Linked DNA regions of Homo sapiens. The protein of the gene in region 4 purifies or fractionates together with the protein of the main gene of each other region. This does not show direct contact. Each region holds a gene or a part of one and is shown on either strand. Other genes may lie near its edges.

Region 1 (3,978 bases), on a different chromosome or scaffold from region 4:
CTCCTTGTAGCAGCTTAGTCCTGGTCCTGCACCTTAGGGCCCTCTCTTGCGCCTTCACAGGCACCAGGTGCCCCTCCCCGCCCTCCCCATCATCACACAGAGACTACATCCTCAATGCATATCCACCCCGGAGTAGGAGCTCAGAGAACTGGCAAAATGCAAAGTCCATGCCACCCTCCTAAGGAACTCTGCCGGCCCAGGGGTCTCATGACACCTTCTTGCCTTGAGGTTCCCCCTCCCACCCCACCTGTTATGCCTGCCTGCCAAGTTCTGCCTGGGGCAGCTCCCAGAGGTTGAGGACCTGGAGGAGACCTGGGTGCTTTGGATCCTCAGAATCCAAAGAACTGGATGCAACCCGAAGCCAGCCCCAGCAGCAGACAAGACTCAGGTAAAGCCCTCGTTCCTCTGTCTGGGTTTGCAGCTTCTGCTAGATGAAGGGGTTGGACTTTGTGCTCTATCAATCTGCCCTTCCTAAACACAAAGGCCAAATGACTGCGCAGTTTTAAAGAAGAGAGGAAACGTTTACTGTGTTGAGCAGACCTTATTTTCATTACAGTACCAGGAAGTTCATTCTCAATTCCCTTCGAACGCAGAGATTCTGCAGACATTTAAAAGCCCAATGCTGTTCCCAAGCAAGAGGCAGCACCTGACAACAATGCTGCATTTAATGGAGCAGGATTACAGTAACATTGGATATTCATAAAGAAGATTTTTAAAGTACACAGTTTCCTTAAAAATTATAACATTTTCCCACCTTTATTTTATTATTACCACGAATAACTGGTTGGTTGGAAAACATGGTACTTGATAATCTTTTGTTGTCAACCTTAAGTTAATGTATTTTGCTTTCTGCTGTTGTTGTTAAGAGACGTTATGCCCATTTCTCTGGAAATCTCAATGGTGACAAGTAAGGCAAGGCATACAATACATTCCTGTCCCACTGCAACCTTCCACAGCTAGCCTCTGCACTGCTGGGTATCTGGGAAAGACTCAGGAGAGGACCTTTTGCTTGCAAATCCTCAAACTCCTGACCTCGGGTGATCCGCCTGCCTTGGCCTCCCAAGGTGCTAGGATTACAGGCGTGAGCCACCACGCCCGGCGCTTGCAAATACCGACCACAGAGTTTAACCTTCATGGGCTCCTTCTAGGAAGCAGGCAGCCACTTGCCACAGACTTTGCAGTTTGTTTTTATAAATTGTCACTGATCAATGACAGCCTGAGGGAATGGGACCCTCTACTCAATTCATTGACTTCCTGCTTCTACTGCCTCCCAGAAGTGTCATTTCATTTCTGTATATAGAGAAATGAAAGACCAAAGAATGAAATGAGAAATCTGTATCCTCTAGGCATTTCAGGTATATACCCTGAAATATCAATAACCACTGAAGTTCATGATGTCTCATTTGCTTGAATTCAATCAGTTAATTACCAAAATACTGATTAAGATCTTTCCCTCACTACCTCAAGGCAGAGAAAACATGAATTTAAAGAAGTTATCTTACCAAACTACACACATGACAAGCTTTATTTGATTAACTCCAATCATCCCACAAAAATGTGCCCATAAAATCAAGTACTTAAAAAACTAATTATTAAAATTACACAACAATGGGACAGGCGCGGTGGTTCACGCCTATAATCCCAGCACTTTGGGGGGCCGATGCGGGTGGATCACTTGAGGTCAGGAGTTCGAGACCACCCTGGCCAACATGGCAAAACCCCGTCTCTACTAAAAATACAAAAATTAGCTAGGCATAGTGGCAGGCACCTGTAATCCCAGCTACTCAGGAGGTTGAGTCAGGAGAATCTCTTGAACCCGGGAGGCAGAGGCTGCAGTGAGCTGAGATTGTGCCACTGCACTCCACTCCAGCCTGAGCAACAGAGCGAGATTCTGTCTCAAAAAAAAAAAAAGCAAAAATTAGCCGGGTGTGGTGGCGCACACCTGTAATCCCAGCTACTCGGAAGGCTGAGGCAGGAGAATCACCTGAACCCAGGAGGCAGAGGTTGCAGTGAGCCAAGGTCACACCATTGTACTCCACCCTGGGCAACAAGAGCAAATCTCTGTCTTGAGGGGGGAAAAAAACCACGCAACAATGGAATACATATATTTAAATAACTGCACATAATACACCCTCCATTTTTGTTACCAAGAGAAAGCTTCCATCAGGTAGCTTTACCAATACATTTCCATTCCCATGAAATGCAATACCACAGTACTAATATTCTATTCAGAAAAAGACTACAATTCCCTTGTAACTCTTTTTCTTTTTCCCTTGTAACTCTGAGTTCTTTCTTTTAATCGTTCAGGCCACATAGGTAAGGCCATTTTAGAAAAGGACTGCTTTCAAGTATCTAAATATACTTCCGGAGGGCGGGGGAGGAAGGGAGTCATTTTACACTTGTCACTCTCAGGGTGATGTCTGACTGTCCAAGTCACGGGGTCAGTAGAGCAGGTTTCCTGGCTAAAGGAAACTCTGGGAGTTCTTTCCTCCCTACCACCTGGGCCAGTCTCTTCCCCCTGTCCCTAGCTCTTGGCCCTCTACTCAGGGACTTGGTCCCCACAATCAGATGAAAACTCATTCAGGCAGAGCCTTGACAAGGTTCAGAACACGAGGGCTTGACCGGACATAGTGGCTCACGCCTGTAATCCCAGCACTTTGGGAGGCCGAGGTGGGCAGATCACCACCTGAGGTCAGGAGTTTGAGATCAGCCTGGCCAACCAACATGGTAAAACCCCATCTCTACTAAAAATACAAAAATTAACCAGGCATGGTGGCAGGCGCCTGTAATCCCAGCTACTCAGGAGGCTGAGGCAGGAGAATTGTTTGAACTTGGGAGGCAGAGGTTGAAGTGAGCCAAGATCGCACCACTGCACTCCAGCCTGGGTGACAGAATGAGACTCTCTTAAAAAAAAACCCACGAGGGCTTAAGGACAGCAGAGCAAATTAAGCTCCATTTATGGAAACTGTTTTAATTTTTTTTTTTTTTTTTTTTTTTTTTTTGAGACGGAGTCTCGCTCTATTGCCAGGCTGGAGTGCAGTGGCATGATCTCGGCTCACTGCAACCTCCACCTCCCGGGTTCAAGTGATTCTCCTGCCTCAGCCTCCCGAGTAGCTGGGACTACAGGTGTGTGCCACCATGCCCAGCTAATTTTTGTATTTTTAGTAGAGACGGGGTTTCACCGTGTTGGCCAGGATGGTCTCTATCTCTTGACCTCATAATCCGCCCGCCTCGGCTTCCCAAAGTGCTGGGATTACAGGTGTAAGCCACTGTGCCTGACCGGAAACTGTTTCTTAACATACATCATGCACGTAATCTTCGCTCTCCCAAGAGGCATTCACCCAAGCAGACAGGCAAGCATCTATGTGTTCAATTCGAAATGCAACAATGACAGATGTACAACTTTACCACTCTTAAAGAAACTAACATGCCATCCATTATTCTCCATGTGGGAAACATTCAGTAAACTTCTAAAACCAAACACAGGACTCTGGCATATCCCCACACCCCCAGCAGCAGGCTGTGACAGGCTTTGATCTCAATCAAATGCCACTGTACACAGAACATAAAAACAGGCTCAGGATGCTGCATGTCACTCTGACATATCACATTATTTCATATTACTCTGTCACTTACTCACAAACAAAAGTCTCCACTATGGCATGATTGAGAGAGAAAATAATTCACTTTATATAAATAACAGCTAAGAACAACATACTGTGAACAGTTTCCAGAGTTTGAACATTCAGCACAATCAATTCTTACTTCTTGGGAAAAAAATATCTTACCTATCTTTTCTGTTACAGTATGCCTTCTTGGAGAAAATATTTTAGTGGTAACATCATTTTCTGGGGCATTTGGTTAATTTTGAAAGATGATTATGCCACATGAACCAAAAAAAAAAAAAAAAACTGGCAGGAGGAGGAGGGTCCTAGGCCATTCTGGAAGCAAGCTGGGTTTTGCATTATTCAGAGTCAA
Region 2 (4,007 bases), on a different chromosome or scaffold from region 4:
ATGTCTGGGTCCCCACCACCACAAGCAGCAGATATGTGCAGTGGGCTAGAGTGAGGACTAGACTTCACTTTCTTTCTTTCTTTCTTTCTTTCTTTTTTTAAGAGACAGGGTTTGGTTCTGCTGCCCACGCTGGAGTGCAGAGGCATGATCACGGCTCACTGCAGCCTGGAACTCTTGATACTCCTTCTTCAGCCTCCTGGAACAGTTAGGACTACAGGTACATGCCACCATGCCTGGCTTATTTTTCTTTTCTTTTTTTTTTTTTTTTTTTTTTTTTTTTTGTAGAGACAGGGTCTTGCTATGTTGTCCAGGCTGGTCTCCAATTCCTGGCCTCAAGCGATCCTCCCACCTCGGCCTCCCAAAGCACTGGGATACAGGCGTGAGCCACCATGCTCAGCCCAGACTCCACTTTCTATGCCTCCACTAACATAATCCATACATTGGTAAGCAGGCCAGTGACTGTGGAGTCAACGGTCTCAAGAAAAACTTGAGGGAAGCCCAGTCATTTGAATTGTTTCTGGCTAAAACTAGCCTCATATGCTTCTGCCGTGGGTAGAGCTGGTTGCCCACCTGCCCTTTCTCTTTGCCACCTCCATAGTCATCCCCACAAGCCCAGCCCCGACAGAGTCCCCTCCCTCGTCACTTGTGGCATCCTCCATCCTGGGGATCGATGCTACTGCAACACCACCAAAGTTCCACTGTCAACTCGGCCCTCAGCATTGGAGTGCCAGGGACATGCCTCATTACAGCACCAATCAAGTTCAAGTTCAAGGTCCCCATTCCTGCATCCTCTCCCACTCAGCTTTGCAGAAGCTTTAGCTTCCTCCCACTACCATCTCCCCACCCCAAACACTCAGACCTCTTCATCGCAGACTCCCTCTTCCTCACCCTAGCCCAGAGCTCTGGGTCCTGGTCACTGAGCCCCCTTTCTATCTTTACTTAGCCATGGCTCTCACCAGGCGGCTTCTCTCCTGCACGAAGTGCTTCCTAACTCCTGAGGAAAGGGTCCTGTCCTCCAGCTGGGCCTCCTTACAACAGGCCACTCACCCAACTCCCCTTCTTTCAGCCTGTCCTGAGACTCTGATCAATTAGGTACTGTTAATATAGCAGTGCCATTTCTTGAACATTGGGGAGTGGAATCCAACGTTTAAGAGAATGTGCTGAAGTCAGACACAGGGAGTTCAAATTTCAGCTCCCGTTACCATAGTCATCTGTTTCCTCCCTGTAACCTGAGTATAATAGAATCTACCTCCGATTGCTGTGAGGGCTAAACAAGATACACAGTGCCTGGGCTCACGAAAAGCATTCTTATGTTAGCCATCGTTGAGTTCCTGCCATGCACCAAATCACAAACACGTCAGGCAGTAGGCATTCTTTAGTTTACCCGGGAGGGAACTGAAGCTCAGAGGGGTTGAGTAACTTGCCTGTGATCATTACGTAAATGACAAAGGTGGCTTGAAACCCAGGTCCTGCCAGAGATTCCATAGCATTCCTGCTCTGATGTTAATATGCCAAGTAACTCAGCAAAGCAGGCTGGCAGGGCCTCTGCACTGTCTGTGTTTAGCACTCCTACTCCAAACCCAGCACATCACACCACAGAAAGAGAGAGAGCCTTTGTGGTGGGGAATAGTTCCATCAACAGTCCTTGGACTTGACTCTCAGTTGCTGCTCCAGCAATAAGTAAGTTTAGGAGCAAGAATGAAACTCTACAAAGCAGGCTTGCAAATAACTTTCTAGCCCACTTCCCCACCAGGAAGTCTCTGAGTGGTCAAATACAAACACTTGACAGGACAGTCTGCAAGACTGGGCTGGGCAGTTCTGAGGCTGGATTTAAAGGGCTGCAACCTCGCTCAGCCTGTGGGTTCCATTTTTTTCCTGAATCTCTACACCTGGCCCTTCCTCCATTCCATCCGGCCCAAGCCAAAGGTGCCTTCTCCATCAGTGCGTGCCTCAGCAGGTCTCCTCCCAACCCAGACATCATTCCCCAAGCCCGCTTCCCACCTACTCCCACACACGTTCCAACAGATCAGTGAGACCGAGTGCCAAGAAGCCAGACCCAGACTCAACTTTCTGCCACCAGCTCCCCTGCACACTCTCCTAATACCCTAAATCCACCAGGATCAAGCTTCTGAAAAGAAGCCCCTTAAGGGAGCATTAAGTCCCAGGACCCCGCATTTGCAGCAACTCCAAAAAATAATCCCTGAAGAGACTGCAGGTCAATCCACTCTCTGCCCCACCGCCACGTAGGTCCACTTAGGGGAAATCCAGAGAAGATTCACCTCCCTTGACAATTGTCAGCCCCCAGCAACACTCAGATCCCCTGACCCAACATTTCTGTGACTAAGTAGTCCCAGGGTTCTGCACTCCCCAGCAACGTCCCTTCCAGTCCCCAGCACCTCCCCTCCCAAGGACACAGAGGGAAAGCGCTAGCAATGTCTTCTTTCCTATCCCCTGCCCCCATCCTCTTCACATTGCGGCTACACTTCTGAACCCTCGGGAGCATGCAGATGTGTCTAACTTACCCAAAGAGAAAAAGAGACTGAGCCCCGTGAGGCTGAAGGCAGGGCGAGGTAGCCAGGCATCTCTGTGCATTTTCAGAGACTGAGATGTTAGTCGGGTGGGCTACGGGAGAGGGTGATTTGAGGGGGCGAGAACTACAAGGGAGGAATGGTTGGATGCTAAAAAAAAATGCACGGATGTACTTCAAAGACATATACAACATTAAGGAAGCTTTATTTCCATCTCTCTAATATGGCCGGCTTGTATGTTGCTGCTAAAAAGAGAGAGAGAGGGAGTGTGTAAAGGAGAGAGAGAGAGATGGGGGGGAGAGAAAAGGGGGATGGGGTAAATATTGTGGTTGGTGGATTTCAAAAAGCAGGTGGGAGGGCATAAAAAAGTCATTTTGAAAAGAACAAAATCCCAGAAATTTTTACCCTCTAAAACAAGAAATAATACAAACCCTGCTTTTTGACTTCACTGGGATGATTGTTGGATTTTGAAAGCTATTAGAGGAATCCATTTATTTTAAAGATTCTGGAAAGGGAAACACCTTTTATCATTTAAAAACACCCCCAGGCTGACGCAGTGGCTCACACCTGTAATTCCAGCACTTTGGGAGGCCGGATGGATTGCTTGAGTCCAGGAGTTCAAGACCAGCCTGGGCAACATGGCAAAACCCATCTCTACTAAAAATACAAAATTTAGCCAGGCATAATGTCGCATGCCTCTTGTCCCAGCTACTGCACCGCACTCCAGCCTGGGCCCTGCCTCCAGAGGGAAAAAAAAAAAAAAAACCTAAAAAAAAAAAGGAGATGCTTGTTTTTGTGTTATTGAAAAGGGTTCAGGAAAGTGAGTTGGAGAGACTTTCAAGGGGTAATGCTTTCCTCATTCTAGCGTTTCCTCTGAAAACAGAACATGTTGAAGCAGGCTGATAGAAAAATACCCAAGAGATCTTACAATTGAATGTAACACAGGCCTTTGGATAAACCTGATTCAAACAAATCAACAGGAAAGAAAAGTTTTTGAGACAATTGGGAAAAGTTAAATATGAACTACATAGTAGATTGTATTAATGAATCATTCTTAATTTTGTTGGGTCTGATAAAATGTGGTTTTGTCCTTTAACATCTCTATCTGTTAAAGACACACATGGGTGGCCGGGCGGGGTGGCTCACACCTGTAATCCCAGCACTTTGGGAGGCCGAGGCAGGCAGATCACCTGAGGTCAGGAGTTCGAGACCAGCCTCCCTAACATGGTGAAACCCTGTCTCTACTAAAAATACAAAAGTTAGCCGGGTGTGGTGGCGTGTGCCTGTAATCCCAGCTACTTGGGGGGACTGAGGCAGGAGAATTGCTTGAACCTGGGAGGCGGAGGTTGCAGTGAGTCGAGATCACTCCGCTACATCCCAGCCTGGGCCACAGAGTGAGACTCCATCTCAAAAATACATATATATATATTCAACGAAAAAAAGAGATGGGAGAATAGGTGACACGAGACTAGTTGTTTT
Region 3 (3,500 bases), on a different chromosome or scaffold from region 4:
TACACTTTTATTTATATATATAAACATATATGTAACTTTTTATTTGATACCTATACACAATTGAAATCTTTACTATCATCATGTGTAACTTTTATTTAGTTTTAAAAAATAATCACAATTTCCTATAGATTAATTCTAACACTCTATCACATATCAATACTGGACCAAAGAACTCTGGAATCATGGGAGAAGGCACATCTTTATGTTCATAATATGTAATGTTATTATTGGTTTTCAAGGTAACAAGCCAAATATGTGTCTAATGTTAGCGTAACAGACCTGAATAATGGTCTGCAGAAATTCATTTAATATAAAAAGCAGAAAATATCAGTTATAATAATTTTGAATTTTGGTGGAGCTTTTAATTAAGCCATAAATTTCTGATAAAGATAAATATATTCCAAATTTAGGAAAAAGCAAATGATACTTGCTTACTTGTTGTTCTCATGCTAGAATATTTCTCATACTTGCGAGTTACAATTTGACACTCTTGATGAACAATCCACAGATGAGAAAAGTGCAAAGGCTCCATTGCCCTGTAAGGTTAGATGTTGTGGCAGGTTTTAAACTATTGACTCTCAGCTCTAAGTTCCCTTCTGTGGTTGCTTTTAGGATGCTGAGGTTTGGACTTTGCAAACCACATATCTGTTTTATTTGTGGTTTCCTGTTAGGCTTTGCCAATGGAGGGAGATGGCAAGACTTGGCAGGGAGAGGGAATTGCTCCCATTGTTGGTTTCCTGTTTTGTTTCTTCCTCCTCCAGGAATTTATCCTAATGGCATGTCTTCATTCTGGCTATATCAATTTATTCCCACAGCAGCAGGTGCTGCCTCTTTGTAGTATTTCCAACATTTGCAGTATATCCAACATTTGATCTCATCAAGCCCTCCTCAGAGACACCAGCACTAGCACCAGAGAGATTTGAGGTTCATCACCACAAAGCTTCTCCTCCAAGCTTTTAAGTCTTAATGATCTTCCTTTCGTTCCCTCAGCCCTGTAAGTTGTAGGGGTGGTAGCTACTTCCTAACATTGCTGTTTCTGTGATACCACAGCAATATCTTAGCCTTTGCATAAACTTGGTTAATAACTCTATATCCAGTTAGCATTCTTTCTAAAATTTCTTTCTTAAAATAACTGATATTTTGTCAGTCTCCCGACTGGACTATGTTTGAATCCTTCTGTATCTAAAAGTGCAGAAATTAAGTTGTTTTGATTTTATAATTTACTAGAGTTAACCACCAGAGGTCTTATGGCTCCCTATACTGCAGGGAGTTAACCAGTCTTAAATATAATTCAGCAAACTTATTTTTAGATGTCATTCGTCTGTTTACTATGCAAGTTCCTCAAATGCTCTTAAAACTAGCTCTAGTATTTTCTTGCTGGTATTTTTATTAATGTGATTAATACAACGTTGACACAAATTCCCTCTCTATTCTTATGAGAATTATGTTTTTAACACCTCTCTGCTTATTAAGGGGAAAGTCACCTCCTCACAGTTTTTAAGTCTTAGATTAAAGCAATGTTTTCTATGCGCAAATGCAACTCATTAGTAGGTTATGAAATCAATTTTGTGAATCCAAATAAGCATTTAAAAAATTAAATTAGCTAGAATAGAAAGTATCAGAGTATAAAGATAAGTTGTTCATAAGAGTTTTGTTTTAAATTTATGTATGTGCATATCAATGTGTGTACTGGGACACATTTTGAAGTTTGAAAATTGGGAATCATGGTAGACCATGTTTTTGAAAAAATACTTGATCAAAGCACATATTCAGATTACAATTTATTTTACAGTGACTGGCAATAGCCTAGATAAATTCCCATTCTGTTTTTACTATTCACTTCTATTAACTTGTATAATTCACTGTTTTTCACAATGAGTTGGAAAATTAAATCAATATGTAATGCTTTGTTTCTGATTTGTTGTTGTTTTACCTCTAAAGGAAGGTAAAAACTATTTTCAGGAAGTCTTTTACAAAATAGTAACAAGAGTATTTCTCATCAAACAAGCTATTGATAAAATCTTGAATATGCCATTCTATTCTGTAAAAAGGAGAATTGCAAAAAATACATACTAGGTCAGAGTTGTGATTGATAGTGATATTTTAAAAATTGGACCTTAATTTCTGTGCTGACAGAGAGAGCTAGGAACAGACTGTAAAGTGACATGGCCGAATTACTAGATACTAAATAAAAGTTAGCTCTAATCTCCCTCACCCCAAGTCTATTGTTTTGTTTTGTTTTTATTATATCTTATTCAATGAGACCTCTTTCAATCAGTACAGGTTCAGACGTAAAATGTTTGCCAGCGGGACCTATTTTAGGAAACCTCATAGGATTTTTCAGGGTGTCAGATTCCTGGAGATATGTGGGATTGGTGCCATGGGTCACTTATACTCCAAGAAAGCATCGAAATGTAAGAAGACACTTTGTGCTGACATTTCAGTGGGAAGAATGCTTTCAAAAGGGATTTCCTAAGAGTAATACAGCCCATTCGTACTCTCTTGTTAACTGGTGAAGTAACATAATTTGAAAATCACATAAAAATTCAGCAAATTATTTCCAAATGGAAACAACATTCACTGATTATAGAACATTTATTCTACACTTTAACTTAAATACATGACTAATTTTCTACAAATTAGCCAAATTACTAAAAGACATCAACATGAACATTAAACATGGGTTGTGGTTTTGTTCACCGTCTTGTAGCTCTGTCAATGGTCTTCACAAAGAAGAGATACTTGAATTCACAAACATGTATAGAACAGTGAATGTGAGATGAAATCAGGGCCTTAGGGATCTTTTTGCACAACCAGGTGAATCTACAGATGAAAATAAGTAGCTCATAAGTGAACATTGTTGAATTTGCAATGTTTACTTAAAGCCTTTTAATTTAAACTATAGTGGGAGATAACAATTTCATAGCTAAGAAATCATGGTATTTGTCTTTGAATTAAGTTGACTTAAAAGTCAAGGGACCTGCATTAACTGCAAAGCTTTACGTTTACATATTACACCATTTCTGAACTGAGAAAATTTGTTTTGCTATTACAATTGCAGTTTATTTTTTTACAGCACTTAAAAGAGGGCTCATGTCATTTTCTCTATTGTAATTGAGGCAGGCTTAAAACCTCTTGGAGAGTAAAAACCATTGTAAAGTTCCCTCCTGCACAGCAGACCAATAGCAAGAATTCAAAAGCCAAGTGCATTGGCAAGCTTTGAAAGAGTATCTGAAATATTTGCTCTTTTACTCTTCAAGTGTATTCTATAGGGCACTATGTAATCAACTGAATTCGTGGTTTCTGAGGAGCTCAGAGGCTGAGGTCTTGTACTTTACAGTAATAGTGTACAGTACATTAACCACCTGGGTCCCTGTGTGTGTCATTGTTTCCTTTCCAGTAGTCAAAACAAAGTATTCTTAAGTTTTGCTTAATTCAGATTTGGTATTTTTGTAAATGTGTTCTCAGAGCCTCTCCAAATGGTTCTGTGTTCCATCAGC
Region 4 (3,500 bases):
CGCCCCACCCCACCCCGCTTCACGCCACCCAGTGCCAGGCACTCATGGGGCCTCTCTTCTGCTCTCTCCCTGCTCGGCCGCCTCCCCGGCAGTCTCGCCCAAGAACTTCAAGGTGAAAATGATCATGAAGACATCAGTTCTGCTCAGCTGGGAGTTCCCTGACAACTACAACTCACCCACACCCTACAAGGTGCGACTGCCCAGCCAGCAGGCAGGCAGGCAGGCAGGGTCAGGGGTTGTAGTTCAGCAGGGCTTAAGGCTCAGTTTGGAGTTGGTGTGAAGTGAGGGATCAGGGCTCAGTCAGAGATGGGTCTCAGCTAGGATTGAGGCTTAGTCAATACTGGGAATCAGACTTGGGGCCCAGCCTAGGATTGGAGATCAGCTGGAACTGAGGTTCAGTCAATATTGGGGATCAATGTTGGGCTCAGCCTTGGATTGTGGCTTAGCTGGGATTGAGGTTCAGTCTGGGATTAAGATTTAGTCCATATTGGAAATCAGAGTTGGGGCTCAGCCTTAGATCATGGCTTAGCTGGGACTGAGGCATAATCAGGATTGGGACTCAGAGTTGGTACTTAGCCTGAGGTCAGAGTTTAGTCTGGAGTTGGTGCCAAGTCTGGGATCGGGGGTCAGCCTGGGATTGAGGTTCAGTCTGAGATCAGGAATCAGTCTAGGATCAGGTCTCAGAGGTGGGTTTCCACCTAGGGTCAGCGCTCAGCTGGAATTCAGGATCAGTCTGGGTTCAGGGTTCAGTGGGATTGGGGCTCAGTCGGGACTGGGAATTCAGCATGGGATCAGGGCTCAGTCAAAGTGGGCTTCTACCTAGGATCAGGACTCAGCTGGAATTTAGGCACAGTCTGGGGTCAGGGTTCAGTGAGGTTGGGGCTCAGTCAGAGTTGGGGACTCAGCCTGGGATCAGGGATCAGTCAGTGTTAGATTTCTGCCTAGGGCAGGATTCAGTGGGATCAGGGCTCAGTCAGGGTGGGGGACTCATCCTGGAGCTGGGGCTCAGTCCATGGGCATGAGCCCACCAGGCCCTGCTGAGCTAGCCCTGGTCCGCAGATCCAGTACAATGGGCTCACACTGGATGTGGATGGCCGTACCACCAAGAAGCTCATCACGCACCTCAAGCCCCACACCTTCTACAACTTTGTGCTGACCAATCGCGGCAGCAGCCTGGGCGGCCTCCAGCAGACGGTCACCGCCTGGACTGCCTTCAACCTGCTCAACGGCAAGCCCAGCGTCGCCCCCAAGCCTGATGCTGACGGCTTCATCATGGTGTATCTTCCTGACGGCCAGAGCCCCGTGCCTGTCCAGTATGCTCACCCCCATGCTCCGGGTTCCTTGTCACCCCCATCAGCCTACTATATGGCTGGGGCAAGCCACGTGCCCTCTCTGTGCCTCAATTTCCTTGCCTATGAAACACAGACCCTATCAGCCCTAGTTCATGGGGTCATCCAAGATTCAATGCTTCTCATGGGTCATTGTCACTAAATGTGTCCTGTGTCTGCTCTTCTAGCATTTCCTGATACCCCATATGCCTGACCCTCCACTGGGTATTACTAGGGCCCCTGAAAGGATTTGGTTCTGGGCTTCCCAACTAGTGGGGAGGCAAAGCTGAGAGTCCCCAGTGGGGAGAGGAGCACTCTGCCTCAGAGGCAGAGAAGATTTAAGGGCTACAAGGTTATGTGGGCATTGAAGCTGGAGCTTTGAAGGATGTATAGGAGTTTAACAATGAGCATTACATGAAGTAAGCCTTCTACGCAGAAAGTACAGCATCATCCAAGGCCTGGAGGCCTGAGTCAGCAACTGTGGCGTTTGTGGATGGGGCATAGGGGAATAGGCTCATTGTATGAACAGAAGGGAAGACTCAGAGAAACGGCTTCCCCCGTTTGCCCCCATGAAGCATCCCTTGGTCATCCCTATCGACAGCCCCTCTGACTCTTTCCCATCTCCCTACAGGAGCTATTTCATTGTGATGGTGCCACTGCGCAAGTCTCGTGGAGGCCAATTCCTGACCCCGCTGGGTAGCCCAGAGGACATGGATCTGGAAGAGGTGAGGGCCTGGGGCCCAACCCGCAGGGCCCAGATGCATTCCAGTTTTCACGTGCTCTGTTGCTCCCAGCTGAGCTCTGAGCCACCCATGACTCTGTTCCCGCAGCTCATCCAGGACATCTCACGGCTACAGAGGCGCAGCCTGCGGCACTCGCGTCAGCTGGAGGTGCCCCGGCCCTATATTGCAGCTCGCTTCTCTGTGCTGCCACCCACGTTCCATCCCGGCGACCAGAAGCAGTATGGCGGCTTCGATAACCGGGGCCTGGAGCCCGGCCACCGCTATGTCCTCTTCGTGCTTGCCGTGCTTCAGAAGAGCGAGCCTGTAAGTCCTGAATGGTGTCCGCCCACATCCAGACACACCTCTGAATGAGGCAGACCCCATTCCCCAGGGCCCTGACCTCTGTGGTCAGTCACAGGCAGCTCCCTGTGGTCAGAGCTGGGCAGAGGGGAAGACTTGGGAGCGGAGGGATCCTGAAACGAAGGTTTCTTAGAGGAAGAGACCTTGGAGCTGGGGCGTTGAGGGGTGAGTAGGAGTTCAACAAAGAAAAAGCATCCCAGGATTTGCATGTGCAAAGGTCTGGAGGTACAGAAAGGAGAGTGGCTGGAGCAGAGAAGGGAATGGGGAGAGCAAAGATTGGCAGGGACCAGGTCACATAGGCCACCAGGGTCAAGGTTCTAGGAATATAGGAGGATCTAGAGCGGGGGAGAAACGTAGGTTCATGTTTGAGAAAGACCCATCTGGCCACTACAAGGAGGGTGGACACTGATGGAGACCCCCCTCCTTTCCCTGCAGACCTTTGCAGCCAGTCCCTTCTCAGACCCCTTCCAGCTGGATAACCCGGACCCCCAGCCCATCGTGGATGGCGAGGAGGGGCTTATCTGGGTGATCGGGCCTGTGCTGGCCGTGGTCTTCATAATCTGCATTGTCATTGCTATCCTGCTCTACAAGAAGTAAGCCCCATGTCCTCCCCGACTTGACTTGACAGCAGGGAGGGCTTCCTGGAAAAGGAGGGAGGAGTTGTCTCAGAGAATCATCACTAAAGGTCTCTGTTGTACACATGGGGAAACCGAAGTTCAGAGAGGTTAAGCCACTTGATCAAGGTCACACAGCATGGGAATGGCAGAGCTAGGGCTCAAAGCAGGCCAGTGGCTTGGCTTCTCCTCTTAACCCCTATCTTCAACTCAGCAAGATTTGGGGTAGAGGCTGCCTGTGTCCAGTTCAATGAGGATAGCAATTGTAGTGGCCCCATGGGGCACATCCCAGGGCTGAGATAAGCCTCCTTGTGGTGTCGATAGGCAGGGGGACAAACAGGAAATATGAGCACCATTTTCCAGAGGAGACCAAAGCTCACAGAGGTTAAGGAAGGCACTGAGAGTCACAGAACAAGCCCTTGATGGCCGGCACACCCTCACCTTTCTTCTTTTTTTCCCCCTTCTCACCTGTGTCT

The links. The genes of interacting proteins can lie anywhere in the genome.
Region 1: the proteins of PTPRS (region 4) and UGGT1 purify together in Homo sapiens (affinity purification with mass spectrometry, with the first as the bait; one large-scale study listed by BioGRID). This does not show direct contact.
Region 2: the proteins of PTPRS (region 4) and SCN2B purify together in Homo sapiens (co-immunoprecipitation; one large-scale study listed by IntAct). This does not show direct contact.
Region 3: the proteins of PTPRS (region 4) and LRRTM4 purify together in Homo sapiens (affinity purification with western blotting, with the first as the bait; one study listed by BioGRID). This does not show direct contact.

What each region holds. Positions count from the first base shown.
Region 1 is NC_000002.12:128,192,200-128,196,177, reverse strand, and holds the end of UGGT1 (UDP-glucose:glycoprotein glucosyltransferase 1 precursor), read right to left. Parts: 3' UTR 501-3,978; downstream 1-500. UniProt on the Homo sapiens protein: Recognizes glycoproteins with minor folding defects. Reglucosylates single N-glycans near the misfolded part of the protein, thus providing quality control for protein folding in the endoplasmic reticulum.
Region 2 is NC_000011.10:118,173,840-118,177,846, forward strand, and holds the start of SCN2B (sodium channel regulatory subunit beta-2 precursor), read right to left. Parts: upstream 2,801-4,007; 5' UTR 2,593-2,800; coding exon 2,523-2,592; intron 1-2,522. UniProt on the Homo sapiens protein: Regulatory subunit of multiple voltage-gated sodium (Nav) channels directly mediating the depolarization of excitable membranes.
Region 3 is NC_000002.12:76,749,377-76,752,876, forward strand, and holds part of LRRTM4 (leucine-rich repeat transmembrane neuronal protein 4 isoform a precursor), read right to left. Parts: intron 1-3,500. UniProt on the Homo sapiens protein: May play a role in the development and maintenance of the vertebrate nervous system. Exhibits strong synaptogenic activity, restricted to excitatory presynaptic differentiation.
Region 4 is NC_000019.10:5,218,813-5,222,312, reverse strand, and holds part of PTPRS (receptor-type tyrosine-protein phosphatase S isoform 1 precursor), read left to right. Parts: intron 1-92; coding exon 93-190; intron 191-1,059; coding exon 1,060-1,313; intron 1,314-1,959; coding exon 1,960-2,053; intron 2,054-2,158; coding exon 2,159-2,374; intron 2,375-2,845; coding exon 2,846-3,003; intron 3,004-3,500. UniProt on the Homo sapiens protein: Cell surface receptor that binds to glycosaminoglycans, including chondroitin sulfate proteoglycans and heparan sulfate proteoglycan.